4 linked regions of the Homo sapiens genome follow. The protein of the gene in region 1 interacts with the protein of each later gene in a biochemical or structural test. Each region holds a gene or a part of one and is shown on either strand. Other genes may lie near its edges. The genes, in order: NFYC, ATF6B, POU3F2 and ATF6.

Region 1 (7,022 bases):
ATTGGAATGTTCCTAATAGTGATGAGCTTCAGGAAGGAAACTTTATTTCCCTTTCAAAAACCCAGAGCTTATTTTCTCTGTAATTAATGTAAAAAAGCTATGAGGGTCCCCAGACCTGTCCTGCTGTAGAGGAATGAGGGACGGATCATCACCAAATGTCTTAACCTAGGCCAAAAAGGAAAGCTTCTTGCTTTGTTGAAGAGCTGCTTGGAACCATTTGGCTCACAGCTTTTCAGTCACATTTGGGTTTCTGCAAAGAGCTCTTCCCAGCTAGAAAATTTTAACATCCCTGTAGCTGTCAGTATACCTTCTCCCACTCCTGGGACAAGGCTTTAGTTTTTCATCTTGTGATCCCTGGCTGGAGTTCTGGGGACTCCTGGAACTAGCCACCATCAGTCTCTGTAGATGAGGTTTTCCAAACTTCTGCCCAGCTGCCTTCCTCCCCACAAGCAACTTAACATTGTTGCCAGGAAGCTGCATTATAGGATTTAGGTGGGGAATTCAGGCTTGGCACCACAGCCTCCCAGCAGCTTCTCTTGGCATATTCTCAGGAAAGAAATGACTGCAGGTCCTAATACTCTTGCCCTGTCTCCTTTGAACCAGATTTTTAATGGGTTTAGATTGGGTGTCCCTCCATCTTGCCTCAAGTGGGCAATTCTGGAATGGTCTACCGTGAACTTGAGAGGTCGTTTTTTCTCGGTAGTTCAAATTCTGTGAGGCTGGAAGTCTCAGAGAAGCATTTTGATTGAACACTGCGTGCAGGAATGCAGCTTCATCCCATTAGCATTTTCCTCATGGAAGAGTCCTGCAGTGAAGTTAGCTCTTGAAGGCCAGAGGGAAATTTGCTCCAGAGCAGAGGCAATACTTGCCTGTTAGCCACAAGAAGCTTCCCCTTGCAACAAAGGCAGGCTGGGCAGCCAGGGCAGGTGGTTTCTGGACCCCGCAGATAGAGACCTAGTCTATCCATGCTCCCAGAACCCCTTTCATTTCCTCTAAATTGAGGGTGTGAATGTCTGCAGTCCTCCTCTGCTGACCATCATCTTTGCTGAGCTACAGTTCTCTGATGTGGTAACCGCCTTGGTCCTCTTTTCATCCCCAGCTCAAAACACTAATACTTTCATGGTACACTGGAGCATTAAGAGCCTGAGTTAAGGCTTTTAGCACACAATTAAATGCAGCATGTGGTATTATTGTATTATCTGAGATTTAATCGTAAGCATGAGAGACTCTAAGGGCGCTTTCGTAGCTTTGGTTTCCCATGATGGGGTTTTCTATGAAAGGTTTATTGATTCTGCTTCCCCTTGGGAGGTGTTTGGCCAGAAGCTAGTGCTGAACACCAAAGATCCTAAAAGCCCCACAGACCCCCATCCAGCCTGGCTCTTGGGGACAGAGATGGTTAAGCAGTCCAGCTTTTGCCTCCAAAATGTGCAGCATGGGGCAGGGCAGTGTGAGGGCTATGATGCGGAATGATGGCTGTTTGCTTTGGGATCCTGGCAGATGCTGGATCTCTTTACAGATGGGAGCGAAAGAGGCCCACACTTAATGTACAGGCATTCTGATGATGTCAGTCAGATAAATTCCTAAGATAAGCTGTGATCATGTAGCTAAGAGCTGGCAAATAATGAGCATGCAGCCATGCTGTTCTCACCTTTGTGACAGGATCTTCTGGGAGTTTTTTCTGAAGTCCATTCAGGGAATATATTCTCTTCTGTGCTGTGTGACTTGTGGGATGTGGATGTTCTGATTTTGCTTGTTTTGACCTCTGTTTAAAAGGGACTTTTTTCAGGGCAGGCTTCTTTGGAGGGCTTGAGGGGTAGGGGGCAATCAACATCTCTGGTCATGGAAAGTTTGCCTGTTTGAGATTATACTCAATGTCTTATGGTCTCTTTGTCTCTGCCCCTGCCCTAGGTGCAGCTGAATGCCGGCCAGCTGCAGTATATCCGCTTAGCCCAGCCTGTATCAGGCACTCAAGTTGTGCAGGGACAGATCCAGACACTTGCCACCAATGCTCAACAGGTATGTGCCCCAGAGACACAAGGCCTGTGTTGGAGACCAGGAGCAGATGGCTTCTGACAGGAAAGGAGCGCTCAGCACACAGCTGTCTTGCCACCTCATCCTTCAACCAGAAGCACCACCCCCACACCCTCCATATCCTTCTGCACCCAAGAGGCATGGGTGGTAATTGGAACATTAGATTCAAAGTGTTTTCTCTTACCATCTTGTTCTCAAGGGGCAAAGAAATGCAAGTCAGGGGAAGCCTCGAAGGTGCCTGAAAGAAACCTTACAGGTGTGCACACCCATCAGACCTGGGAAATGTTCGACAGATCGCCTGATCGTCAGGCTGTTTCCATCTTTAAACCCAAGTGGCTGTTGTGTTCTGGCACCTCCTGTGCTCTTTGGAAAGCTTACTTAGATTTTACCCCTACCTCCTCTTGCATCCCTAACCAGAAAAATTGCCCTTCTCCTCTCCTCTCGTGCCCTACAATATTGATGGCTATGAGTCACAGATGGTGAGGGGGCTGCCTCCCTGGGCTTGGGGGTGTTGAGGGACATGGGTATTACTTGCAGAAGATGGGGGGTGCTGGTCAAGGGGAGGCATTGTTAATGGATTCTTTTGCCTCAGACCCAAAAAAAGCAGCGATCGTTTAAGAGCTGGACCCGTCTGGCCCAGTTGCATTTCTGGTGATGTATCTATTGACAGTGGTGACAGAGCTGAGTTTGTAGAGCAGGTCTCCAAAGATCTCATTTGGGAAAATACGAGGAATGAGCCAAAAGCAAGGCTTCTGAGTTCCATATAGTCTCTGGGATCATTAAGGGCTGTTTCTGTGCCCACTCCCCGGCTTACCTAAGGACGCGGCTTTTCCGTAGCTGATACTGACTCACACCCTTCCCCCAGCCCCTCTTTTTAACCTCATAAGATTCTTCCCTGGGATCCAAAAAACATAACGGCATGGGAGTGGGAGGAAATGAGAAGGAAGCTTCTTGGTTCCTCAGAAGTCAGTTTGGGGCTGGGCACAGTGGGTCACGCCTGTAATCCCAGCACTTTGGGAGGGAGGCTGAGGCAGGTGATCACATGAGGTCGGGAGTTTGAGACCAGCCTGGCCAACATGGCAAAACCGTTTCCACTAAAAATACAAAATTAGCTGGGCGTGGTGGTGCATGCCTGTCATCCCAGCTACTTGGGAGGCTGAGACACAAGAATCACTTGAACCCAGGAGGTGGAGGTTGCAGTGAGCTGAGATTGTGCCACTGCACTCCAGCCTGGGCGACAGAGTGAGACTCTGTCTCAAAAAATAAAAATTAAAAAAAGTCCGTTTTGGGAACAGAACTAAAGCCAAAAAATGGGAGAGGCTGGGGAGAAGCAAGAAAGTGGTAGCTGAAGGCAATGAAAATCTTTGTAACAACAGGTTGTAATTATGACAACCTAATACTTAGTAGGTGCTCAGTAAATGTTTGTTGAATGAAGCTGAATGAATAATATGTAAATAAAATGTAAAGGTAAATGAAATCTCAGCTAATATGAATGGCAATCCTGCTGGCCACAGAGCAGTTAACCTTCTTATCTATGTGGAATATTTTCCATTTGTCTCAGGCTCACTTGTTTATTCTGCAACATTTCTGGAATACTAACTTTGTATGGGCTCCTGCCCTCAGGCATCTTATAGGCTGTTGGAAGGAAAAGGACCAAAATAAGGAACAATAGTAAAAAATAGTCATGAAGCCTGTCATACCTGTTCCCTTTCTTGTTCCTCATAGCCTCATGGGTAGGCCTGCAGGGGTTGTTTTTGGCCATGGTGAGGACATTTGAGAGGACAGTCCTTGTCTTGCAGGCTGGCTGTGATGATTCCAGGAAATGGTACACAGAGGACACTGCTGGCCAAATGTTCCATAGGAACACATGTGCATGCACACCGCAGTCTTCTTTCTAGTTTACCGAGCTGCTCCCAGCAGTTGTCATTATATATGCAGTTCTACATGTCAGTACATTTATCTAAAATCCATTCACAGTCCACACATAAGATTTTAAGTACTTGTGATAAATGTTGTCTTTGTTCCACTCCCGGTCCCTCCCCTTTTCTCCTCCCCTCCTTTGGCCCAGAGGGCTGCACAGTGCCTCTCTCGGAAAAAGTACTTCATAGGTTTGCCATGAGGACTGCTGGGACCAAGGCCACTTGCTCGCCAGGGTGTTTCATATTCCAGTCAGATGATCTGGGTGATACGGGTTTGGTTTGGAGCCCACCTTCCAAGAATGAAAGAGGCCACTTACCACTTTGTCTGACACTTTGCAGTCCGCCTTCACTGGCTGAAAGACTGACTCTTAGGACTTCTACCCCAAACCATAGCACCTAGGGTCCATGTGTTCTGTTTGAGCCTCAGAGTTTGAGATGAGTGGGTGGTTGAGGGAGTAGGCATTCATTAGAGAGATGGGTGTGGGAACTATCTATTATGTGCTCCAGGATTCTCGATGTCACTTTGTGCTGCCAACTCTTGACGTAGCCATCAGTGCTAGATTAGGAGGGGTGCTTGCTTGCTTACTACCCATTGAGCACCTGCTGGGCACTTTATATGCATTGTCTCATTTGATCTTTATGACCCTCTTTTGGGTGGTGGGCTGGTGGATCAGACCCTGCAGCTGACATACCAACTCTACCATCTTGATTCTTACAGATTACACAGACAGAGGTCCAGCAAGGACAGCAGCAGTTCAGCCAGTTCACAGATGGACAGGTAGGGTACCCAACCTGGGCTGGGCAGAGGGTGAGGATTTGCGGGGCAGGGTAGCAGGTAGTATCTGGGTTTGGATGGTTAGGGCAACTGTCCTGTCCTCTACTAACAGTGAGTGGACAGAAATTGTTAAAACAAGTACGGTATTTAAATCAGGGCACCTATCCTTTAGTTTTATAGACTTAGTGGGAACTAAAATAATCTTAGACATGTAGCCCAAATTGCCATTTTACAGATGAGTAAACTGAACCCTGGAGATGGGAAGTGCCTTGTCCATGCTCCCCTAGATGTTCATTGCAGAGCCAGGACTAGAGAGCAGGTTTCCTGTTTCCCTCTCTAGAACTGTATTTTTTTCCCCTCTAAGCCATGATGCTGTTTTAATAGCATGGACTGTTGAGACGCAGAGAACACGTGACCTCTTGAGCTCTCTGGGTGCCTGAAATTCAGTCATTTTCAGTCCATGCGAGGAGAGAATCTTCCCTTTTCCCTCTGCTTTCCCCTCACAGTACAGTCCCAGAGACCACTGAGGACATGATAGGATGACATGCCCAAACTTGTGCCCTCTGCTGCTCAAAAGGGAGAAGAGCTGGCATCAGGACCCACCTCTGGCTTCTGCCAGCACCACATGCTAGGCTTACATGCCAGGGCTCCCATGAGGGCTTGGCTTTTGGCTTCTTTGGGGAGCGCCTGGGAAACCAAGTAGTCAATTAGCCCTGACCTTCCTAAGTGGCTGTGTGAGTATCTTCTCCACCCCTGGAGCGTCTTGGCTATAGTTAAGTGTTTAATACCAGGCCACCTCCTTAGCAGGGTCCATGGAGAAAATTCAAATTCAGTTTAGTTTCAACCTGAGCCAGATATTCTGAGAAAAGAAGGAGAGGAGGGGGTAATCCTACTGCCCCTGCCAGTGTAGATTACCAAGAGTTGGGGAAATGCTGACTTCCAAGCTGCTGGTACAGTGGTTCGAATTGCTTGTGTTTGCCACAGAGGAACAGCGTGCAGCAAGCTCGAGTCTCTGAGCTAACGGGAGAGGCAGAGCCCAGAGAAGTGAAAGCCACAGGAAATTCAACTCCCTGCACCTCTTCCCTGCCCACCACACACCCCCCCTCACACCGGGCTGGTGCCTCCTGTGTCTGCTGCTCCCAACCCCAGCAGAGCTCCACTTCCCCTCCTCCTTCTGACGCCTTGCAGTGGGTGGTGGTTGAGGTATCTGGGACCCCCAACCAGCTCGAGACCCATAGGGAGCTGCATGCCCCTCTCCCAGGGATGACCTCACTCTCTCCTCTCCACCCCTCGCAGCAGCTCTACCAGATCCAGCAAGTCACCATGCCTGCGGGCCAGGACCTCGCCCAGCCCATGTTCATCCAGTCAGCCAACCAGCCCTCCGACGGGCAGGCCCCCCAGGTGACCGGCGACTGAGGGCCTGAGCTGGCAAGGCCAAGGACACCCAACACAATTTTTGCCATACAGCCCCAGGCAATGGGCACAGCCTTCCTCCCCAGAGGACCCGGCCGACCTCAGCGCCTCCTGCAGGCTAGGACACTGGTGCACTACACCCCATGCCTGGGGGCCGAGATTCTCCAGCAGAAAGATGCAATATTTTTTGTTTCCTTTTTTTCCATTTTTTTCTCTAAGGAATCAATATTTCAATATGTTGAGTGTGTGTCCAATGCTATGAAATTAAAATATTAAATAACATATTTATGGCATTTTCTTGAAGAGTGTGGTTGAAGAAATATTTCTCCTTTTGTTTTTCTTTTTTTTTTGTTTGTTACTGCCACTTCTTTTTAGGAGCAAATCTCCCCAGGGGTGTACGGTATTTCTTGACTCTGGGAACAGCTGCTACCCCCAAGACTTGCCACGTTGTTCTGCCCTCAGATGGAATTAGGTGAATGTGTGTAGCTGCTTTTTCACTCGTGGTCCTCTCCCCATCCCTTGCTCTGACCCCAGAGCTCTGTGTATTTGCATCCAGAGGCCATGGAAACATTCTTTGCATTTAAGAGACAGATTTATTCCCTGTGGAGAGTGGGTGGATTCATTGCCACACTCTTTTCTCCCAGGGACCCAGGAAACTAGGACTTTGTGTGTTTGCTGCCCACCTCCCTTTTATTTTTTAAATGCATTAAAAACTGTGCTAGTCTCCTTTGCATGGACTTCAAGCTGCATGAAATGCAATAAATCTCATTTTAGATAATTTAGAGTCTGGGTTTCTGTGTCTGGGGGCATTCATGGGGCCACTTTGCTTGGAAAGGTTCATTTGCCCTCAGTTTGTGTGTCTGGGAGAGAGGGCCACCCTTGTG
Region 2 (6,921 bases), on another chromosome or scaffold:
CAGCACTTTGGGAGGCTGAGATGGGATGATGGCTTGAGGCCAGGAGTTTGAGACCAGCCTGGTAAACACAGCAGACCCCATCTCTCTAAAAAAAAAAAAAAAAAAAGAAAAACATACGGTTTATGAACCAGCAGCATCTGCATTAACCAGCTTATTGAAATGCAGAATCACAGGCCCCACAACAGACTTCCTAAATCATAATCTGCAACTTAACAAGTTCCCTAGGTGATATGTATGCACACTTATGTTTGAAAAGCACTAAGATTTCTTGATGAAGGAGGACTTGAAAGGCAATGATGGATGTGAAAGGAAAGGTAAAGAGAAGCCTCAGGTAGTCACCCAAGGGACAGGGCCGGTTGGAGAGAGAGTCCCGAGGTTTTATCCTGGAGAACACCCTGTACTGAATGAGCTCTGAACATAAAGATAGTTAGCATAGGAGGGCCTGAAGTCTCCAGATAAAAGGCTGCTGCCACTATCATTTACCACGACCTCTGCCATTCTCCACTCTATTGTCATCCGCCCCCAGTCTCCATTCCAGGACTTCTCTACACTTTGACTTTTTGTTTGTTTGTTTGTTTGTTTGAGACGGAGTCTTGCGCTGTCGCCCAGGCTGGAGCGCAGTGGCACGATCTTGGCTCACCGCAAGCTCCGCCTTCCGGGTTCATGCCATTCTCCTGCCTCAGCCTCCCGGGTAGCTGGGACTATAGGTGCCCGCCACCACGCCCAGCTAATTTTTTGTATTTTTAGTAGAGACGGGGTTTCACCATGTTGTCCAGGCTGGTCTCGAACCCCTGACCTCAAGTGATCCCCCCGCCGCCCCGCCCCCTCCCCCCGCCCCGCCCCCCCCCGCCGCCTCGGCCTCCCAAATTGCTGGGATTACAGGCGTGCGCGATGCCCGGCTTTTTATTTATTTATTTATTTATTTTTGAGGCGGGAATCTTGCTCTGTCGCCAGGCTGGATTGCAGTGGCACCATCTCGGCTCACTGCAACCTCCGACTCCCTGGTTCAAGCGATTCTCCCACCTCAGCCTCCCAAGTAGCTGGGATTACAGGCACACGCCACCATGCCCAGCTAACTTTTTGTATTTTTAGTAGAGACGAGATTTCACCATGTTGCCAGGATGGTCTCGATCACCTGACCTCGTGATCCGCCCACCTCAGCCTCCCAGAGTCTCAGTTGCCAAAGCTGGAGTGCAATGGCGCGATCTCGGCTCACTGCAACCTCCGCTTCCCAGGTAAGCCATTCTCCTGCCTCAGCCTCCTGGGTAGCTGGGATATAGGCGCCCGCCATCACGCCGAGCTATTTTTGCATTTTTAGTAGAGACGGGGTTTCACCATGTTGGCCAGGCTGGTCTTGAACTCCTGACCTCAACCTCCCAAAGTGCTGGGATTACAGGCGTGAGCCACCGCGCCCGGCCCACCTTTTTTTTTTTTTTTTTTTTTTTTTTTTGTTTGAGACGGAGTCTCTAGTCTCGCTCTGTCGCCCAGGCTGGAGTGCAATGGTGTGATCTCGGCTCACTGCAACGTCTGTCTCCCGGGTTCAAGCGATTCTCCTGTTTCAGCCTTCCGAGTAGTTGGGATTACAGGCGCGCGCCACCATGACCTACTAATTTTTGTATTTTTAGTAGAGACAGGGTCTCACCATGTTGGCCCACTTTGACTCTTGAGCAGCCTGGCCAGCCCGACCGCGCCAAATTCTGTTCGATTCTGCCTAGTTCGGTTGCTCTGGCCTAGTTCAGTTGCTAAGGCCTGGAGCTTCATGGTTGCGGAGGAAATGATGTCACGTTCAATAGGCGGGCTAACCAGATTCCTCCCTTCTCCCGATTGGCTGCCAGGAATTTGACTAGATTCGGAGTCTCGCGGGCTCCAGGGTTAGTTGTCAGTATCTTTCCCAGTTGTTCCGCCCCCTACCCCCGCCTCCCGCACCGCGCCCCTCTCCGGCTGCCCTCTCCGCGTGGGGCAAGGCTCCGAGGGCAGCATTCAGTAGCCATTTAGCTTTGGAAGGAGAGGTGATTCGAATGGCCCGGCTCCTCCTGTCACCATGCTAGGCACTTTGGCCGCGCAGGTACTTATTGACCCGACCGGGTGTCCGTAGTTGGCGCGGCTACCTTAACCGCAGGGAATTGTGGAATTTATAGTTCTAAATTATATGTGGGTGGAACGGGGAAGCTGGAGCAGATTTTTGGAGGAAAGCAAAACTGGGGACTTTCAGGACTAGGGGCCTGGGTCTCAGAAGAATGGGAAAGGACGAGAAAGGAGTCTAAATAAGAACCCTGCTATTAGCATTGTTTGGTTTTCTTTTCAGGTGCTGACCTGAACCTGGTTCATCCCTTTCTGACCAAAACTGTTCACTCACCGTGGAAGGGACTAAGCATCCATATGGAGACGCCACCAGTCAATACAATTGGAGAAAAGGACACCTCTCAGCCGCAACAAGAGTGGGAAAAGAACCTTCGGGAGAACCTTGATTCAGTTATTCAGATTAGGCAGCAGCCCCGAGACCCTCCTACCGAAACGCTTGAGCTGGAAGTAAGCCCAGATCCAGCCAGCCAAATTCTAGAGCATACTCAAGGAGCTGAAAAACTGGTTGCTGAACTTGAAGGAGACTCTCATAAGTCTCATGGATCAACCAGTCAGATGCCAGAGGCCCTTCAAGCTTCTGATCTCTGGTACTGCCCCGATGGGAGCTTTGTCAAGAAGATCGTAATCCGTGGCCATGGCTTGGACAAACCCAAACTAGGCTCCTGCTGCCGGGTACTGGCTTTGGGGTTTCCTTTCGGATCAGGGCCGCCAGAGGGCTGGACAGAGCTAACTATGGGCGTAGGGCCATGGAGGGAGGAAACTTGGGGGGAGCTCATAGAGAAATGCTTGGAGTCCATGTGTCAAGGTGAGGAAGCAGAGCTTCAGCTGCCTGGGCACTCTGGACCTCCTGTCAGGCTCACACTGGCATCCTTCACTCAAGGCCGAGACTCCTGGGAGCTGGAGACTAGCGAGAAGGAAGCCCTGGCCAGGGAAGAACGTGCAAGGGGCACAGAACTATTTCGAGCTGGGAACCCTGAAGGAGCTGCCCGATGCTATGGACGGGCTCTTCGGCTGCTCCTGACTTTACCCCCACCTGGCCCTCCAGAACGAACTGTCCTTCATGCCAATCTGGCTGCCTGTCAGTTGTTGCTAGGGCAGCCTCAGTTGGCAGCCCAGAGCTGTGACCGGGTGTTGGAGCGGGAGCCTGGCCATTTAAAGGCCTTATACCGAAGGGGGGTTGCCCAGGCTGCCCTTGGGAACCTGGAAAAAGCAACTGCTGACCTCAAGAAGGTGCTGGCGATAGATCCCAAAAACCGGGCAGCCCAGGAGGAACTGGGGAAGGTGGTCATTCAGGGGAAGAACCAGGATGCAGGGCTGGCTCAGGGTCTGCGCAAGATGTTTGGCTGATTAAAAGTTAAACCTTAAAAGAGACAGGAACTTGTGAATTGTGGTCTGTGCTGTGAGATTTGGGGGTGGGGGGCCAGAGGGAAGGTTTCAGCCCATATCCCATTCTCAGCTTTTGGCTTCCTAGGGGAGGTAGCAGTGGTCACAGTGCGCCCCTTTTGAGGGGCTTATCTATCTCCGAGGACACATAGAAGCTGTCTAAACTAAACTTAGTAGTGGCTGGGGGAGATGGTGGACCTTAATACTGGGTACTACATCTCCCAGGCGCTTTATCACTGGAGCCTGTTTGGCGCATGCGCTTGGCGGTATGGCACTGTCTGGAAGTTACTTCCTGCTGCTGTGCTCCCATTGGGCCCGCCTACACAGTCATCCGCATCTGTTGATTCACGTGCTCAGCACCCAGGTCTCTTACTGGTCGGTAGAGCTTCCGGGACGCCCCCTTTTTTGAAAGAGTCAACTGATTAGTTGGTGATGGGGAGAGGCGGGCCTTGGGAACCGTCTCCTGGTTGGGGGGTGGGGGGGAAAGATGGCGGAGCTGATGCTGCTCAGCGAGATTGCTGACCCGACGCGTTTCTTCACCGACAACCTGCTTAGCCCGGAGGACTGGGGTCTGCAGAGTGAGGCACCGGGGAGGGGAGAGGGCTGTGGCAAACTGTCCCTGAGGCACGCGGGAAAGAAGCGGGGGCCTAAAGAGGAAGTCTGGGCAAATACGGAATCCGCCATCTGAAGGAGAGCGGAGCAGGGGGCTCGTTGTGCATTAAGGGGGATACAAAAGTCAGGGAAGAACTCTGCTCCCTGCTGGAACGTCGAGTTGTTCCGGGGTCGGGGAAGGAGGGGCTGAAGCGCCCTGGTTGTATCACTTTTCAAGTGGGCGGGCGGTGGGTCTGGCCGAGCGGAGCCAATGAGGGATGGGGCGGGGGCTTGTGTGCGATCTGTAGGCTGGGGCCACCGAACGACCCCCCGACGCTCAGCATTTCTTGCAGACAGCACCTTGTATTCTGGCCTAGATGAAGTGGCCGAGGAGCAGACGCAGCTCTTCCGTTGCCCGGAGCAGGATGTCCCGGTATTGTGTCCCCAGCCTTTCTCTAACCCTTGGTGGGTGGAAAGTGAGCCCAGAACCTGGACCCATTCACAGGCCATAACTCATCTGGAGTCACCCCTACTTTCTCATCCTTTCTCACACTCCTGCCCTCTTGTATCCTCCCTTATTTAGTTTGACGGCAGCTCCCTGGACGTGGGGATGGATGTCAGCCCCTCTGAGCCCCCATGGGAACTCCTGCCGATCTTCCCAGGTAAGGTAGTCTTTGTCGTTCCCTCAGATTTCCAGAAACCCTCATCTTCCCACTGTTTCCCAGAAACTACGTAGCTTCCTATATCCTCACGCTTCTACATAAGTGCCTATCCTCTCTCCTTCAATCCCCTATTTTTGTTTCTTCTCCCTTGCTGCGGTACAGGAATCCCCACCGACATGTCCTTGGGTACTTTTTGGACTCTTCTTAAGCTCTGCTTCCTGATAATTTCTAACTCCCTTTCCTCCAGATCTTCAGGTGAAGTCTGAGCCATCTTCCCCCTGCTCTTCCTCCTCCCTCAGCTCCGAGTCATCGCGTCTCTCCACAGAGCCATCCAGCGAGGTGAGAGAGCCATATCCCTCTTACTCTCTGTGACGGGGACTCTGCTTCATTCCCTTCACCCGTGGGTGACAAAGAAATGATTTAAATGATTTGTGTGCTATGAGTCATGAGGTGTGTGAGGTGTGGGGGGCCTTCTCCACTACCTTTGCCGTTTCCTTAATATCTTCATTTTCCACATCCCCTTTGGTTATCTAGCAGTGAAGATTTTTTTGTTTGTTTGTTTTTTGTTTTTTGCTTTTTTTTGAGATAGGGCCTCCCTCTGTCACCCAAACTACAGTGTAGTGACAGGGTCACAGCTCACTGTAGCCTTGACCTCCTGAGCTCAGGTGATCCTCCTGCCTCAGCCTCCTGAGTAGTTGGGACCACAGACACATGCCACCATGTCTGGCTAATTTTTTTTATTGTTTGTAAAAATGGGGTCTTCCTATGTTGCCCAGAGTGGACTTAAACTCCTGGGCTCAAGTGATCCTCCCACCTTGGCATCCCAAAGTGCTTGGATTACAGGTATAAGCCACCACGCCTGATCTTGGGTCTTTTTAATATAAAGAGTTATGTGGGGCTGGGAAGAAGAGAGTTATTGACTGCTGAGAATTCTGGAACTGTTCTTGCCCAAGTTGTCCACTCTGAGGCCATATTTGAAGTCATGAGACTTCATCAATTCTCCCAGAAATAAAGTAGAAAGAATGAACAGGTTAGAAAGATGGTCAGTACCATTCAGACCAGAATGTCAAATAATTGATGGCTTGTAAGCCCTAAACTTCTAAAGCTTTTGTTCTCGCTCTTACTGTCAACATCTCCCTTGTTTTTTGCCCTTCTTTCTGCCCCCTGCCCCACACCAACTCTCACCCAGGCTCTTGGGGTAGGGGAGGTGCTCCATGTGAAGACAGAGTCCTTGGCACCCCCACTGTGTCTCCTGGGAGATGACCCAACATCCTCATTTGAAACCGTCCAGATCAACGTTATCCCCACCTCTGATGATTCCTCAGGTAATAAAACAGCCTGCCCCCAATCCTTGGCTCTACTACGGGAGAATGTGTTATGTGTGTGTGTGTATGTGTGTAGATGGAGGGGAAGTGCAGGCAGCAGGACAGGGAGAAAAAGGTGGGGAGGGGAAATGGCAGAAAACCAGGAGGGAAGGCAGGAAGGAGAGGAAACATTTCAGGGAACCACAGCAAGGGCAGTGCTGAGGAGATGGATATTATTTTTCTCTCTTTTTCTTGTTCCTAGTATTCTGTCATGCCATTCAACTTACTTTTTAAAAACTTGTGAGCAGTTTAGGGCATATGTATCTGTGTGATTCCCCTCCACCCAACATTTTATTATAAACATTTTTGTTGTTGTTGAGACAGAGTCTCACACTGTCGCTCGGGCTGAAGTGCAGTGGTGTGGTCTCAGCTCACTGCAACCTCCACCTCCCAGGTTCAAGTGATTCTCCTGTCTCAGCCTCCCAAGTAGCTGGGATTACAGGCACCCACCACCACGCCCAGCTAATTTTTTGTATTTTTAGTAGAGATGGGGTTTCACCATGTTGGCCAGGCTGGTCTTGAACTCCTGACCTCATGAGTCGCCTACCTCCGCCTCCCAAAGTGCTGAGATTACAGGCGTGAGCCATCGCGCCCAGCCCATAAACATTTTTAAACATACAGAAAGGCTAGAACACCATATACTAAACTAGATTCTACAATTAACATTATTTGTTCTATTTTTAAAGTGTTCCCAAGTTTATTTACTCGTAGCTGTGTATTTAGTAAATGTTTATTGATGTGATCATATCTGAGGTATAATAATTATAAAAAAGAAATATTTATTAAGCACCTACTCCATGCCAGATACTGAGCAGCATGCTGGGAATGCAAAGATGAAC
Region 3 (7,985 bases), on another chromosome or scaffold:
CTTGATAAACAAATGAGCTAGTGAAGACAAAACCTGTCTACTGCGTGGAGATCGTCAGTGTATGCTGTGGGTATCTGTGTGCTAAAAAACACAGTCTTATGCATACACTATTAAGTTCCTGGGTCTTTTTTTATGTAAAAAAAAAGCTATTAGAGAAACAAAGTTTAACTGCTGCTGTCAGCACAAATAATTCTTCATAATTGTTACTAAAACTGAAGGTAGAGAACTATATAGGGATATCTGAAGATATGTACTTCCCTAGTTCTCTTCAAAGTGCCACTTTCTTTCTGCTGGACAACTCTGGAAATATATTTAACCTCCACATTTCCCCTGAGCTCTTTCACAATGGGCCCGCCTGATAAAATGAAGCAATCAGTCACTCACTATCGATTTTTCTTTTTTCTTCCCTCCATAACCTCCCCCAGAAACACTGCCTGAAAATGAAGTTTACTTTGTGGCTGGTAAGAACAACCAATGCTTATTTTTATATTCCAAACCGGATTCTTGCCTTCGATAAAGCGGGTAGACCATGCACATTTCCTGAAATCAGAGAATTGTCTATTTTGTATGAAGCCAATCCTTTTGCTTTGGTAAGAGGAACAAATAGATGTTACACCCTCGTAAGGGGAATGTGAAGGTAACCAAAGTTCACAAACAGTACGAAGAAGGGGCAACACAAGAACATTAGAAATGGAGAGTGGCCAAGAGCTGGCTTCAACTCTCTCCGATGAATAAAGCAAAGCAAAACAAAATCCCCCAAAACGGCAACTCCCAAATTAACGGTGGGGAGAAAGAGAAAATATGCTCATGAATTTGTTCACGTAAACTTCAATTTTCTTGCAGTGCAAATTTATGTGGTTAAATTTTGCCTATATGAAAGAACATGTGTATTTTTTCCTCTTTCCTGATGGGAATCCACAATAAATAAACACAGCAGCATGTGCCAACTCTAAGCATCAGGAAGCTGCATTTTGTGTTTATCATGGTTTGGTGGATTTTTTTTCCTTTTTGGTAATTTATTTAGTTTTGCCAGGTATTTATCTCAGTGCTTGCCATCTCTCTGTCTCTCTCTCTTTCTAGCTATCACACACTCTCCTCACTCTCTCCAGGAGACACTCCACTCCATTGCCTGGTTACTCGCCTGCAAAGGTCAAAACACATCATTACACCTGCTACCTTTAAAGGATAGTCCAGTGTCTTAGTTGCTTTCCTTTTGCCTTATTTTTTTTGTCTTTTTAAGGGACGGGGAAATAATAATTAAAAATAAAAGAACAATCAGAAGTTAGAGAGGGAACAAGAGGGCCGGGAAAGGGCCAAGGACCGAAGGGGAGGGGGAGCCCCGCGCTCTGCCCCTCCCCCAGCTCGAGTTCACTGGACGGGCGTCTGCACCCCGTGGTGTGGTGGAGTGTCCCTACTCCCCCCGTACACATCCTCGGCGCCCGGCAGAGTCCCTCCGGGAGGGGTCATCCTTTTCTCTTTCTGTCTCCTGTTACAAAACCAAACTCTCACCACCTCCTTCTCCAGCTGTAAGCTGTCCGCGAGGGAGGTGATCTCCTGGGCCGAGGGCTTGGGGCATTTGAGGAAATGGCTCTCCAGAGCCCCCTTGACGCTCACCTCGATGGAGGTCCGCTTTTTCCGCTTGCGCCCTTGCGCTGCGATCTTGTCTATGCTCGTGGGGCTGCCCGAGGACGAGTCCGCCTCCTCCAACCACTTGTTCAACAAAGGCTTCAGCTTGCACATGTTCTTGAAGCTCAGCTGCAGGGCCTCAAACCTGCAGATGGTGGTCTGCGAGAACACGTTGCCATACAGGGTGCCCAGAGCCAGCCCCACGTCCGCTTGGGTAAATCCCAGTTTGATCCGCCGCTGCTTGAACTGCTTGGCGAACTGCTCCAGGTCGTCCGAGGTCGGCGTGTCCTCGTCCGAGTGCGGGTCGTGGTGCGCGCCTGGGTGGCCAGGCGGACCCTGCGGGGGCGGCGGGGGCGGCGGCTGCTGGTGTGGGTGCGAGTGCGGGTGCGGGTGGTGGTCGGCATGGTGTGGCTCGTCGTGCGCGTCCCGCAGGCCGTGGTGGTGCAGACCGGCCGGCTGCCCGCCGGCGCCCAGCATGCCGTTCACCGTGAAGCTGGGCTGCGAGTAGAGCAAGCCGCCGTTGGACGCTCCCATGGAGGGTGGGAGGTGCGCTGCAGCCGCCGCGCTCCGCCATGCCCCGGGTCCCGGGTGGTGGTTAGCGGCGTGGTGCACCAGATGCGGCGGCCGCTGTTGCTGCTGCTGCTGCTGCTGTTGCTGCTGTTGCTGCTGCTGTTGCTGTTGCTGCTGCTGATGCTGCTGCTGCAGGGCGCCTGGCCCGTGCAGCTCGTCTCCGCGGCCGCCCTGCTGCACCACCACCGAGGGCTTGATGTCCGGCTGGCCCAGGGGGCTGGTGGACCACGGGGAGCCGTCGCCGCCGCCCCCGCCGCCGCCCCCGCCCCCCCCGCCGCCGCCACCGCCCCCGCCGCCGCCGCCGTGGGACAGCGCGGTGATCCACTGGTGAGCGTGGCTGAGCGGGTGTCCGTTGCTCTGCAGAGCGCCGTAGTCGCCCTGCACCAGGCTCTGCGCTTCGCGGTAGCCCCCCGCGCCCTGCTGCATGCCGCCGGGCGGCTCGGCGTGCACGATGGAGGCGCTGGAGGTGAGCAGGCTGTAGTGGTTAGACGCTGCGGTCGCCATGACTCTCGGAGCCGGACTGAGCGCTCCGGTTAAAGGAGCCGCGCATTTGACAGTTACTTTTTCGCCTCGGGCTCCCTCTCCTCGCTCGCTCTTTCTGTCTCCTCTCTCTCCCACAGCGGGCAGCTCCGACGCCCGCTCCGACGCCTTCTGTTGCTGCTCCTGCTATTACTGCTGCTGCTGCCGCCGCCGCCGCCTCCCGCCCGCCCTCGCTCTCTTTCTCCTCCTCTCCCTCCTTCTCGCTCTCGCTCACTCTCTGACTAGCTCGGCGCTCCCCCCTCTCCCTGCTCTCTCCAGCTCTCTCCCGCTCTCTTGGCAGCGCCGGCTCGCAGCGGCACGCGCCTGGGCCCCGCCCCCTCCGCCCCCTCCCATTGGCTCCGCGCCCTTTGATTTACGTGGATACCGCTAGCAACCTCCCAGGCCGGCGCCACTGATTGGCGCAGAGCTACTCCCTCCCCCTCCCCCGGGCTCGGAGTCCTCCTAGCCCTCCTCCCCGTCCCCTTCGCCTCCCGATTCAGATTCTCTCAGTTCTCACCCCCCCGCTTCTTCCTCACCCGGGGCCTCCTCCGCCCTCTCTCGGATGGGCCCCGCCCCCCATCTGTCTCCCAGGCAGAGAAGACCGGCAGGGGGGCGGTCCCGGTGCTCTTATCGGCCACAGACACTTGGAAGACTTGGATTGGGGTGGGGGGCGGGAGGCAGTGGTGTCCACTTTCGTTTCCCAATAGGGCTTTAAGATGGGGAAACGGAGGGGGTAAGGGAAAAGCTGGGTCGCACCGAGCCAGCGGGAGTCGGATTTTTATTCACCTAGGGACACACACACAGTGTGTATCTCTTAAACCTAGAGCCAAGAGCCAGACCTGTTCCCCTGTTCAACTCTCCTTGCATCCCACGGTTAGAATTTCAGTGCACAAGTGTCTCTTGCTCCAGGGTGTGCGGACACTTCGGCCCAAAGCTCTTCTCCTTCCCCTCTACCCCGCGGCTAGCACAGGCTCTCTTCCTTTTAGGTTCCAGGCCCAATTGTCTCCCACTCCCTTGGGGAAAGAACCCCGAGAGAGGCAGGCTCAGCCCGCACCGCGGCTTGTAAGTCATTCCCATCAAGGCTCGGAGTTGCTTGCTCTGACAGCGTAGCGGTCTGAACTGAAAACCAAACAAAACTCTAAAAGTCTCTCCGTCAGATTCACACGCCGGCGCGTGCAGTTTTTGGTTTAGAAAACTAGAAGCCTGCGTGGGCTCCGTCTTGTGCGAGGCTGCCGGAGTGCTGGCGAGGGGTGTGCGGCCTTGTAGGGGCGGCGCAGTCGCCAAAGGCCGCTCCGGGAAGCCGCGCGGAGGGCCTGCGTGCGCGATTCCCCGTGCTCCTACCGCTGGTAGGTGCAACTTTTCCGTTAGCCCCTTGGGAAGGAGGAAGAGTGTGTGAAGCAAATGGGCTGATGCCAGGGGAACCTTCCTAATCAGTAACTTCGGTGGGCGCTAGCGGGTGGGGTTAGTCTATGTCTTTGGCGCTCCCTGGCCAAGCTCCCAGCTCAGCTTTCAGCAGTGAACTCCAGAGCAAGACTATGGGACCATGCACCCGCAGCGCCGCTCTACGGAGCGCGGGCGCGTCGCGCCATCAGTTCTTTAGCCGCCCAGAGCAGGTGCCGCCTGCGAGTTTCCGAGCCTGCAAGCCCGGTAGCTAGAACTTGGGCGCGGACCCAGGCTGGAGCGGCGTGACCGCCACGCAGGGCCGGGTGTGTACATGGGCGCTGTAAAGCGAATCAACAGTTACTGCCGGGAAGGGAATGACAGACCCCAGGGAACCTGGATCGCGTCCCCACCTCTCACCCCTCGCTCTATCGCTGGTTTTGCCGGCGGTCGTAGGCTTGAGAGGGCAGCCAAATCAACGCTCAGAGGGAGCATTTTGGGGCCTCTGAGCATCTGAATCCAGACAGCAGACTGGAGCGGGCCAGAAAATTCATCATGACTAACAAGGAGTCATGCTCTTTGGAGAGTGGCTGAGCTGTTTATAAATCACCACGTTGAGCACCCGCCCGGGCAAGACGCTTTGGCTGAGAATTTCCACGTGTCCTGTGTTTATGAGCGTGTGTGGGGGAGAGAAATGGATAGGGGAGGGGCGAGCCCACAGGCCGCCAGCAGGACGGACCTGCACCCCCACCACGCGCGCACCCGCGCGGCGAGGCGAGGCGAGGACACACACAGCGTGTCGCTCCGTCCCAGCGCAAGCGCGGGGCCACTCTGGCCGCGCGCCTGGGGGCTGCTAGGAATCCCATAACTTTGTCTAGCTAGGAAAAAATGAACAAGTCCGAGCCTCAGCGCGCAGACTCAGCGACTGGTGCCCGCGGCTCCGCAACCGCGAGCCAAGGGGCTGGGTGGCGGGCAGAACCGCCTTCTCCCGGCTTCGGCCCTGCGTCCCCTGTGCTAGGCGCGTGACTTTCCCTGGGCCTTGGGGAGCGCACAGACAGCCCGCCAGCCGCATCTTCTCCTGACATGTCGTGCCTTTCTTTTCGCGGACCTGGAGCTCAGAGCTCCCACGGACAGAAGAATCCAGCCCTGGGGAAGGGCCGCGTCCAAGTGCTAAGCAGCTCATACTTCTCCCCCACCTTTCTGGGGCAGGTGTCTGCTTTTCTCTGGATTTAATTTCACATTTCTCGAGGCACAAGGCCTTCTGCAGCCCATAGGATGATACACTCGAAAGAAGAATGAAGTTTTCAAACACATCTTCGAAGGAACTGAGGCGGCCTGGCTCTGAATCAATTTAAAAGTTCCTCCTCCTCTTATCTTTCTCTCCACACCCCACCCCACACCCCCGCCCTCCTCCCGGCATAGGGCGCTAGTGTGAGGGGACAAGAATAGGCTGCACGTGTACATCAAAACTTCCTGTCTGCGATAGGACATCACCGGCGATTAATGCTGAGATCCTTCCCACGTTGACTTCCCAGGTCTCAACTCCAACTTCCATCCCCGTCTCATTTCGCTGGCGGCCAAGGAGCCGAAACGTTCCCAACAGGGTTTAATATACCCAATAAATCCCCGGGAGTACACAAAGAAATAGCCTACCCGGGGCCTCAGTCTCTGCACCCCACCCCCACCCCCAAGCGCGGCCAATCACCGGGCGGGCCAGGCTGGGCTCGCACCGCGGCTCTGAGCAACACCTCCCCACGAGCTACCGCCGCCTCCCCTCCAGGCGCCAGGGGCCCGGTTGGCGCGAACGCCGGGTTCCGAGCACCCTGGGCTTCCTTGTCTGCCTCCCAGCGCGGCACCTCTTCGGGGCTCCCGAAACCTGAGCTCTCGCTGGTTTTAGGTCCAGACTGGGGCCTCTCCACCGGTTCCTCCCCCGCCCCGGGCTCTGGGGCCCATTCTTTGGGCTGACCCTGTCAGGGCAGAGTCCGCGCGTCTGCCTGCCATTCTCCGCCCGCATAAAAGCACGTTGAAGGTGTCTCGGGCAGACACCTCCAGGTTTTGAATCAGTTTATTCCCTTTCACTGTTCAAAGCAGCTGTTCAAATACACAGGCTGCTTACGTTGACGTGGAGAGGATTTCAAACAACGCTAAAATGCTTTGAACTGACAAGGTGTCTTGATATCTCCCTCACTCCATCCAGCACAGCTCCTCGAGATCACTCGCTAGGACAATGGCTGAGCAGGCGATTCGTGCGGGCCTCGCCACCTCGGGGCGCGGACTGCGGGGTGTCCTAAGCCCCTTCCGCAAGGACAGGATGGAGGCACCTGTAAGGAGATGCTGGCGCCACCCCAGCTTCTCCCAGGTCCGGAGGAACCTCTACTCAGTCAATACCCTGAGCTGGACTTGTCTGAAGAAACGGAGCCGACTCCCTCTTGCCGGGGTGCGCTGAGTGGAGGGGAAACATCCTCGAATAACAGAACTACACCAAAAAGACACCCATGTTATCTCTCACACTTTCACACTCCTCGAGATAGTGAGCCGGACCTGGGTCTTAGTAGCACCCAGTACCTTGACACAAACCTCCCAAATTTCCACCTGAGTAACAGTTATGGGGTCAGTCCATGCACTGTAACTTGAACTCTAATTTATTAACTATTTCATCTAGTAAACACACTCACACCATATATAAAATAGCATTTATTTATTTCTATATACCAGGAGTTGGCAGAAAACCCACCGTGACCACTCCCATACATTGAGCTGGAGGCACACAATTACTAAAACAGAGGTGAAATGGTATTCATTTGATCTTAATTTTTTCTTATTTATGTAGTCCCAGGATAATAGAAATCAGGAAACAAAAGAAAACAAAGAATTTTCTGAGGAGATGGCCATTGGGGGAGTGGAGGTAGCAGCTGGTTTAAACCTAAGTAAAACTAGAAAAAGAAACTGCTGTTTCCTTTTTCTTATATCCACCTTAGAGGATCATGTTTGAACGTCCCTACTCCTCCTCCTCTTTTTAAAAAGCCTTGTCTCAGTCATTCATTCCTGTGCTTCCTGCTCTTCTGCTAGACCCCAGCAGCTGTTTGATTTGGTGAGGCCCCCCTCCAACCTCTGAGTGGAACTTCTTTTCTAAGGGCCTGCAGAATGTCAAAACTGAGGCTCTGGCTTCGGAGCTAGAGCTTTGAACAGCCAATCCACACAAAAAGGCAGCTGGCTGCTTTAATGAAAACTGCTATAAAGCTTCAAGAACTTTAGCCTTGGGGGATGCATTTATAAGGAACATGGAAAATGCATTTCCAAGTTGCTGGTTCTTGGGAGAGACATAATAAACATTTACCAAAAAAAAAAAAAAAAAAAAAAGGATAGAACTTACTATCTTTAATTATGCAGCAGCATATTTTTTCCTGAAGAAATAAAGCTTCCAATAAATTTGTATGTTACTGTCTATACCTATATTTTGCAAATTCCTAAATGTGCATCTGTCCTTGTGTAATAAAAGGTCTTGAAGAATGAAAAGTTTTCTGAAAGTTGAAACTCTCCTACGTCATATGCTTGGCAACTCTGTCCATACCTCACATACAAACAATTCTATTTTACCTTCACTACTGTGTAAACCAGTGAAATATAATGTCCTTAATTCAGTATTTGAAATAAAATTATCTGTATTTATAGATACTAATATCTTTCCCTTTTTCTTCAAGTTATAAATTTTATCATTAAAACAGTCCCCCCTTTGTAGTCTGCAAGTGAATATTTTATATACAGGGATGGCTTGAAGACATCTAACACCATGTCACCCAGATAGTCTAGCTGTTTCAAGGATTACTTTGAGTAATTTATCAAAGGAAGCCTGCTAAATCCTGAGCGGTGAATATGAGGCCTTAGGAGGG
Region 4 (7,077 bases), about 120 Mb from region 1:
GGAAGTATGTGGACTCTTTGTACTATCTGCTCAATTATTGTGTAAATCTATAATTATACTAAAAAAGTAGGCTTATTATTTAAAATAATTATGTGAAATTCAAATTTCAGTGTCTATAAAGCTTTATAGAAACACAGCCATGCTCACTTGTTTATGCTGTCTCTGGCTGCTCCTGCACTATCACAGCAGACTTGAGTAGTTGCAACAGTGACCATGTAATCACAAAGCCTAAAATATTTACTATCTGAACCTTTACAGAAAATGTTTGAAGACTCTTGCTCTAAATTTCATTACCTAAGTTAAAAAGAAAAAGGAAAGCACATCCCTCACAGGCTGTTCTGAGTTAATCACTTTATTTAAATTATTTAGAGTTGTTAAAATCACAGGACATACTAATTACATAATCTGATTTTTAAATTTTAACTAGATAGTGTCTAATATTAAAAAAAAATCAAGGCTAGACACAGTGGCTTGAGCCTGTAATCCCATCACCTGGGAGGTTGAGGCAGGATGACTGAGGCCAGTTGGAGACCAGTCTGGGCAACACAGCAAGACCCCTGTCTCTACAAAAAATTCAAAAATTAAAAATTAACCAGGCATGGTAGCGGTGTGCACCTGTAGTCCTAGCGACTCAGGAGGCTCAGATGGAAGGATCACTTGAGCCCAGGAGTTCCAGGTCACAGTGAACTATGATTGCATCACCGCACTCCAGCCTGGGCGACAGAGCAAGACCCTGTCTCTAAAAGAAACAACAACAACAACAACAAAATCAAGTAAATCAGTGAAGTACTTGAACATCCAAAACAGCAACTGTCACAGAACGAAACACTATCAGACAGTAGTGTTTCACTCTATTGCCAACAAAATCTATCCTACTTACTGAACACCTAAGGAATTAAATTAAAGTCTTCAAAGAAGAGAAGACTGTTAACAGTTTGAAAAGGGAAACCTGGAAAACAATGGAAATGGGCACATTCAGGGAGGGACAGGGCAGGATACCCGATAGAAGTGAGTCGGTGAACTGACTACAAAGAACTGAATGCTCTGTTAGAGAACATTAAGTCAAGTGATCAGATAAGTCTGGAAAATGCAGCCTGGGTATCAGAAGACGACATAAAATTATGCTACCAGGAAGTGTCCCACAGTTATACTTTAAGAAATGTCACTGGCCGGGCACAGTGGCTCACACCCGTAATCCCAGCACTTTGGGAGGCCGAGGTGGGCGGATCACCTGAGGTCCAGAGCTCCAGACCAGCCTAACCAACATGGAGAAACCTCGTCTCTACTAAAAATACAAAATTAGCCGGGCGTGGTGGTGCATGCCTGTAATCCCAGCTACTCGGGAGGCTGAGGCAGGAGAATCGCTCAAACCCGAGTGGCGGAGGTTGCGGTGAGCCAAGATTGCGCCATTACACTCTAGCCTGGGCAACAAAAGCGAAACTCCATCTCAAAAAAAGAGGTAAAGAAAAGAAATGTCATGAAAATATAATAGCTGACTAGCTGACAAAATAAATCATAACTACCCAATATATTCAAGTAGTCTTATTAATAACCAGGGATCTTAGGAAGAATAAAATCTGTAGACATGAGTTAGGAAAGCATTATAGAATAGATGCTAGGGGTACAGACTTTGGAGGTAGAAAAACCTGGTCTGATCCTTCTTCTGCCACTAACTAGCTCTAAGAATCTGAGCACAAATTCTGTTAGCCTCAGTTTCCTCATCTCTAAAATAAACAGTACCTCATTGGACTGTTGGTAGGATTAAACAAAATACTTCATGTCAAGAGTTTAACAGGGTCCCTGACACAAAGAGCTAAATAAATGGTTACTGTCACTAATGCATTTGGCTTGGGAAAATGGGAATAAAAAATCTTAAGTTTTCCAGCAACTCTTAAAAAATCTACCCAAGGATTAAAATAAATCTCCAATAGAATATAGTTTTAGAGAACATCTGTCCTTGAAACAATTAAATGACTTTGTTCAATAAAAAGTTGAGATTCCTTCCACTCCTGCTATTGAGAATGCTGATCCAAGGGAGAAAGATAAACTGGGTTCCCCCCAGTTCCAAGGCTGATGAGTGGTGTAGGCTCACTAGCGGGCCCATTTGGGAACCTACACAATCCCAAATTCATATTGGAACCTAAGAACAATATTACTATTATATCTTGCAATCAAGAGGAGAATAAAAGTCTCCTCTAAATACTTAGATAACAAAGTTTCTTCATTCTCATTTCCACTTCATCCCATTCCACCCTTCCTGACCACCAAAACCAAACAAAATATCCATTAACAAGAAAATTAAGAGCTGTATCTGGAGAGCAGTCAGGATTACACCATAAGTATTAGGTGTAGCTAAGCAGGGACCCGAGGTCAGGTGCTTGGGTGTTTTGCTTTTCTGCCAAGACGGACATCAGGCTTAAACCAATAGTAAAAGCTGTAAGATTAGAATTTCTTGTATATAACCACATTCTCTCATATACACCAAACACACAAAAACCCACTCCATTGTGCTCACCGCCCACATTTCACACTCAGGAAATAGCTTGTAGCCTTTTTGGCGGTCCCAGCCATTTTGCTCTAAACCTCCTAAAGACGTCCAGTGTTAGCCACACAAAAAGATCACCCGGTACTTCCCCAGTGGGAATAGTGAAAAACGACAGTTAACTCCAGTTAGACAATATTCTACTCTCCCTGTGGCCAGGACAGAAGCCGAACGATACTCCCAGACTCTTCCAGGGGCACGAACAGGAGTGACGAGGGGCCTCACTCCCCAGGCAGGGTTGGTCCACACCTGTCACCACGAGTGGGCGGAAGTAGGGAGGAAGAAACCTTTAGACGCGAACCCGAGCCACCCTGGTACATTCTCAGATCCCACTCACCCCAATCTTCATCCAGCCTGTGAAAGAGTCCCGGGCTAAAAGGTGACTCCATGGTGCCGGCAACCCCAGCCGGCTCCCCCATTTCACAAGTTCCTTCTCCCTGGAACTCCGTGATTAATATCTGGGACGGCGGCGGCAGGCGGACAAAATACTCCGTAACGCTGACGAGACGGTGGCCTAGTAAAGACAAACTACTTTTGCCGCACGAGGGATTTGTACGACACAGGAAAACGTCAGAGACTAAGCAAATTTGAATAGACCTCTGAGTAAATATTTCCCTTTTGGAGTTTTCAGGACTTTCTGTCCCGCTGTTTTATGGGGAAGGCGGGGGAAGACACGCAGACATCAATTCGACTAAACAAAGTTTATCAATAATATTAAAAATAAAAAGTAAAGCCCCTTTCTGAACATTATGGCTTATTCCTTGATTATCCTTCTTAATGCCACAGCGTGGCTATCTCAGAACAAAATTAGAGACTAACAGTAAATTTACTTTAATTTTTACGAATAATTCTCTATCAATGTAAAAATTTTTCATATACGCGTGTATGAAAGAAAAACACTACTATTTTTCCACATTCGTGAAAACTGCTTAACTGGGACAGTAACCGAGGTAAGTGGTACTATAAAACATACTTCTAGAAAGACTACTTTTATTTAAATAAATTGAAACAAAGCAAATATAAAAAGATAAACCCCCCAAATTTATCTCCTAAAGATAAATTTCTAAAGCATAGTATTTAGTCAAAGTCCAAGCGAGTCTACCCTAAGACCTACAGTAATCGAAGTTCCCAATATTTGTATTACTAAAGATTCGGGTTTTATTTAAAGGAAAATCACATACATCACGAACTCCAACTGAAAATATGAACTGAGTTTGATAAAGCAGTTTCAAGAACGCTACTTAAGAGAATTTCTTTTTCATCCATTTTAAATTTCAGCGGCCAGTGAATATTTAAAATACTGTAACCGACGAATACGTATGCTTCTAGGACCACGTGGAATCTTTCCCATGGTAGGTAAGCAAAACAAATGTGCTTCCCAGAACCCTCCAAACTGCTCGTGGGTATATTACTACAGATTACATAATGCAGCAGCGTTCCGGGACGCAAGCCCAGAAAAAGATAATTAAATCCCCTTACGTCAGATGTAACTACTTTTGTCATTAGAAAACTAATAAATTTTCACTTAAGGTGAAATTTATAACACTTTAATTCTCACCCAATTACAAATTCAAAAATTGACATAAAAAACTAAAATAAGGCCGGGCGCGGTGGCTCACGCCTGTAATCCCAGCACTTTGGGAGGCCGAGGCGGGCGGATCACGAGGTCAGGAGTTCGAGACCAGCCTGGCCAACATAGTGAAACCCTGTCTCCACTAAAAATACAAAAAGTTAGCCAGGCGTGGTGGCGGGCAAGTAGCTGTAATCCCAGCTACTCGGGAGGCTGAGGCAGGAGAATCGCATGAACGCGGGAGGCAGAGGTTGCAGCGAGCGGAGATCGCACCACTGCACACCAGCCTGGTCGACATTGCGAGACTGCGTCTCAAAAAAAAAAAAAAAAAAAAAACCTAAAATAAAATAAAATCATCGAGTCTTCTGTATCCCACTAGACACCTTAGTCTTTTAAGAAAATCACCATGACAAATCGCCAATTTTTTTAATTTCCAAAAGATTTTATTTTTATTCAAAAAGTGCAAGTAATTATGAAACAAACATTTGTGACCTATCACCAAGAATTTAAAAATTTAACATTTTTCATTTTTGTCCCAGATTTTTCATAAGAAATTAAATACTACAGAATTGAATTCCTCTTTCCTCCCTGCTTCATTTTCCTCCCTTGGCGTAGGCCACTTCTACCATGAATTTTATGGGTATAAAATTTTATTTTATAAAAATAAAAGTGTAATTCTAGTCCACTTTTATTTTTAGTTTTACGGTGCTTAAACATGTTTATAGACACATGCATTTAGTGTCATTTGGGTTTTTTTAATGTATGTAAACTTTAATGTTCTCCAAATCATTTTTCTTATTGGATATTAAGGATCTACCCATGGTATTTCCTTGAATGAATCTCAATTTCTCTCTCTCTCTCCCTCTTTTTTTTTTTTTTTTTTTTTTTGAGACAGGGGCTCACTTTGTCCCCTAGGCTGGATTGCAGTGGAGCCATCTCAGCTCACTGCAGCTTGACCTCCCAGGTTTAAGCGATCCTCATGCCTCTCCCCACAATAGCTGAGACTACGGGAACCCACCACCACACCCGACTAATTTTTGTATTTTTTGTAGAGACAGGATTTCACCATGTTGCCCAGGCTGGTCTCAAAACTTCTGAATTCAAGCAGTCCGCCCGCCTCTGCCTCCCAAACTGTTGAGATTACAGGCGTGAGCCACCGCACCCAGCCTCAAGAATGTCTTAAATAATGTATGTACTATTTTATCAGTTTACACCCTCACTAGCATTGATGAGTTCTCTTTGTTCCACATTCTCTCCAACACAAGATATGGTCAGACTCTTACCATTTTTACCGCTGTGAAAATTGCAATTTACATTTCCCTAACAAAGTGGTGCATTCTTCCATACTTATGAAACCTTATTTCCTCTTCTGTGAACTGTCCACTCTTACCTTTTATAAAGTTTGCTATGGAGTTTTCTTTCACAAATGATGTGTACGTCATTAGATAGCCTGCTCTATTCATTCACCTGTATAAAGTAAAACTAAACTCCTAAGTCCGCCACCAACAGAATAGGCCCCCTTGTGGCCAAGGGGATCCTAGAAAACCTTAAAACTGAGTTCTAGACCACGATGGGACAGGTTAGACACACCTTGTTATACTCCCTCCCTTTTGTAGTTTAACACAACAACTGGCCAGCATTAATGTTAAAACAGAGATGATAAGACTGACAGAACAGACTCTGGCAATAAGATGCCAAATTATAAAAAAGACCTAAAGCCATTCCAGGCAAGGTTTTAGTCCCACACCCCTATACTTAAAGAATAAACTGTGTTCTAACTGCCACAAGATTCTTCTCTAGCAGCTAAACAAGTACTGGCCTAAAGATAAACAATATTAAAATAATGTGCAGCTCCACGAGATGCTGACTTACTGACCCCCAGTCCCCGTTCCACCAGCCATAGCTACAGCTTTCATTGGACAACTTTTTGTTGATTTCAGTAACTTTCTCCAGGTAAGAAGACCACTGGCCATGGACTGGTTCTGGCTGGTCTACAGAGGTCGCACATTTGCATGGCTTCATGTCCTGAAAGACCTTTTGACGTATAGGGCTCGTAATACATTTAAATGTTAAGTCTTGGCTGGGTGTGGTGGCTCACGCCTGTAATCCCAGCACTTTGGGAGGCCCAGGTGGGAAGATCACGAGGTCAGGAGCTTGAGACCAGCCTGGCCAACATGGGGAAACCCCATCTCTACTAAAAATACGAAAATTAGCCAGGCGTGGGGGCAGGTTCCTGTAATCCCAGCTACTCAGGAGGCTGAGGCAGGAGTATCGCTTGAAACCGGGAAGTGGAGGTTACAGTGAGCTGAGATCACATCGTTGCAGTCCAGCCTGGGTGACAGAGCAAGACTCCGTCTGAACAACAACAACAAAAAAGTTAAGTCTCCATCCCAAAGTGAATATGGGTCATATGTTACATGAGTTTTTGTTCAATACGCATGTGTCAGGACCACTTTCATGAATATTCATAGCTCTTCCTGTAACCTGGTGAAAATGTAGGTTTAGCCAACCTGTTCAGCCTGAACTACACTCCAAGCCCTCCTCCTTCAAAGCGCCTGTTTCTGGAGGCACGCTTCCCAGCCTGCAGGATGGCCACCTTGCAGGCCATAAAGTCTCCCCTTCTTTTCTAAATTTATTCATTGTGGGGCTTTTTAATATATACATTTTTAAAAGAGAGAGAGAGACAGAGTCTCGCTTTGTTGCCCGGGCTGGTCTCAAACTCCTAGGCTCAAGCTATCCTTCTGCCTCAGCCTCCCAAAGTGCTGGGATTACAGGCATGAGCCACCGCACCCAGCCCATTGTTGGGCTTTTTTAAGTTAACGCTTGGTATATGTTATAAATACCTTCTCCCAGGTTGACACTTGTCGTCTTTGTTTACGGTGATTTGTTCTCTAGATTTTAATTTCAATGTAGTCAAATTTATCAATCTGTTGTTATGATAGCTGACTTGTAGCTTTCTTAAGAA

Evidence for each region.
Region 2: the proteins of NFYC (region 1) and ATF6B form a complex in vitro, tested with the Homo sapiens proteins (one study listed by BioGRID).
Region 3: the proteins of NFYC (region 1) and POU3F2 form a complex in vitro, tested with the Homo sapiens proteins (one study listed by BioGRID).
Region 4: the proteins of NFYC (region 1) and ATF6 form a complex in vitro, tested with the Homo sapiens proteins (one study listed by BioGRID).

Annotation. Positions count from the first base shown.
Region 1 is NC_000001.11:40,764,688-40,771,709, forward strand, and holds the end of NFYC (nuclear transcription factor Y subunit gamma), read left to right. Parts: intron 1-1,908; coding exon 1,909-2,016; intron 2,017-2,230; coding exon of another isoform or gene 2,231-2,287; intron 2,288-4,668; coding exon 4,669-4,728; intron 4,729-5,709; coding exon of another isoform or gene 5,710-6,021; coding exon 6,022-6,141; 3' UTR 6,142-6,916; downstream 6,917-7,022. UniProt on the Homo sapiens protein: Component of the sequence-specific heterotrimeric transcription factor (NF-Y) which specifically recognizes a 5'-CCAAT-3' box motif found in the promoters of its target genes.
Region 2 is NC_000006.12:32,125,239-32,132,159, reverse strand, and holds the start of ATF6B (cyclic AMP-dependent transcription factor ATF-6 beta), read left to right. Parts: upstream 1-3,913; 5' UTR 3,914-3,952; coding exon 3,953-4,043; intron 4,044-4,409; coding exon 4,410-4,489; intron 4,490-4,639; coding exon 4,640-4,718; intron 4,719-4,965; coding exon 4,966-5,057; intron 5,058-5,907; coding exon 5,908-6,043; intron 6,044-6,921. Other genes in the region: FKBPL (FK506-binding protein-like), read left to right, coding at 2,380-3,429.
Region 3 is NC_000006.12:98,829,589-98,837,573, reverse strand, and holds the start of POU3F2 (POU domain, class 3, transcription factor 2), read right to left. Parts: upstream 3,001-7,985; 5' UTR 2,701-3,000; coding exon 1,369-2,700; 3' UTR 1-1,368.
Region 4 is NC_000001.11:161,762,245-161,769,321, reverse strand, and holds the start of ATF6 (cyclic AMP-dependent transcription factor ATF-6 alpha), read right to left. Parts: upstream 3,003-7,077; 5' UTR 2,962-3,002; coding exon 2,880-2,961; intron 2,874-2,879; exon of another isoform or gene 2,516-2,873; intron 295-2,515; exon of another isoform or gene 1-294.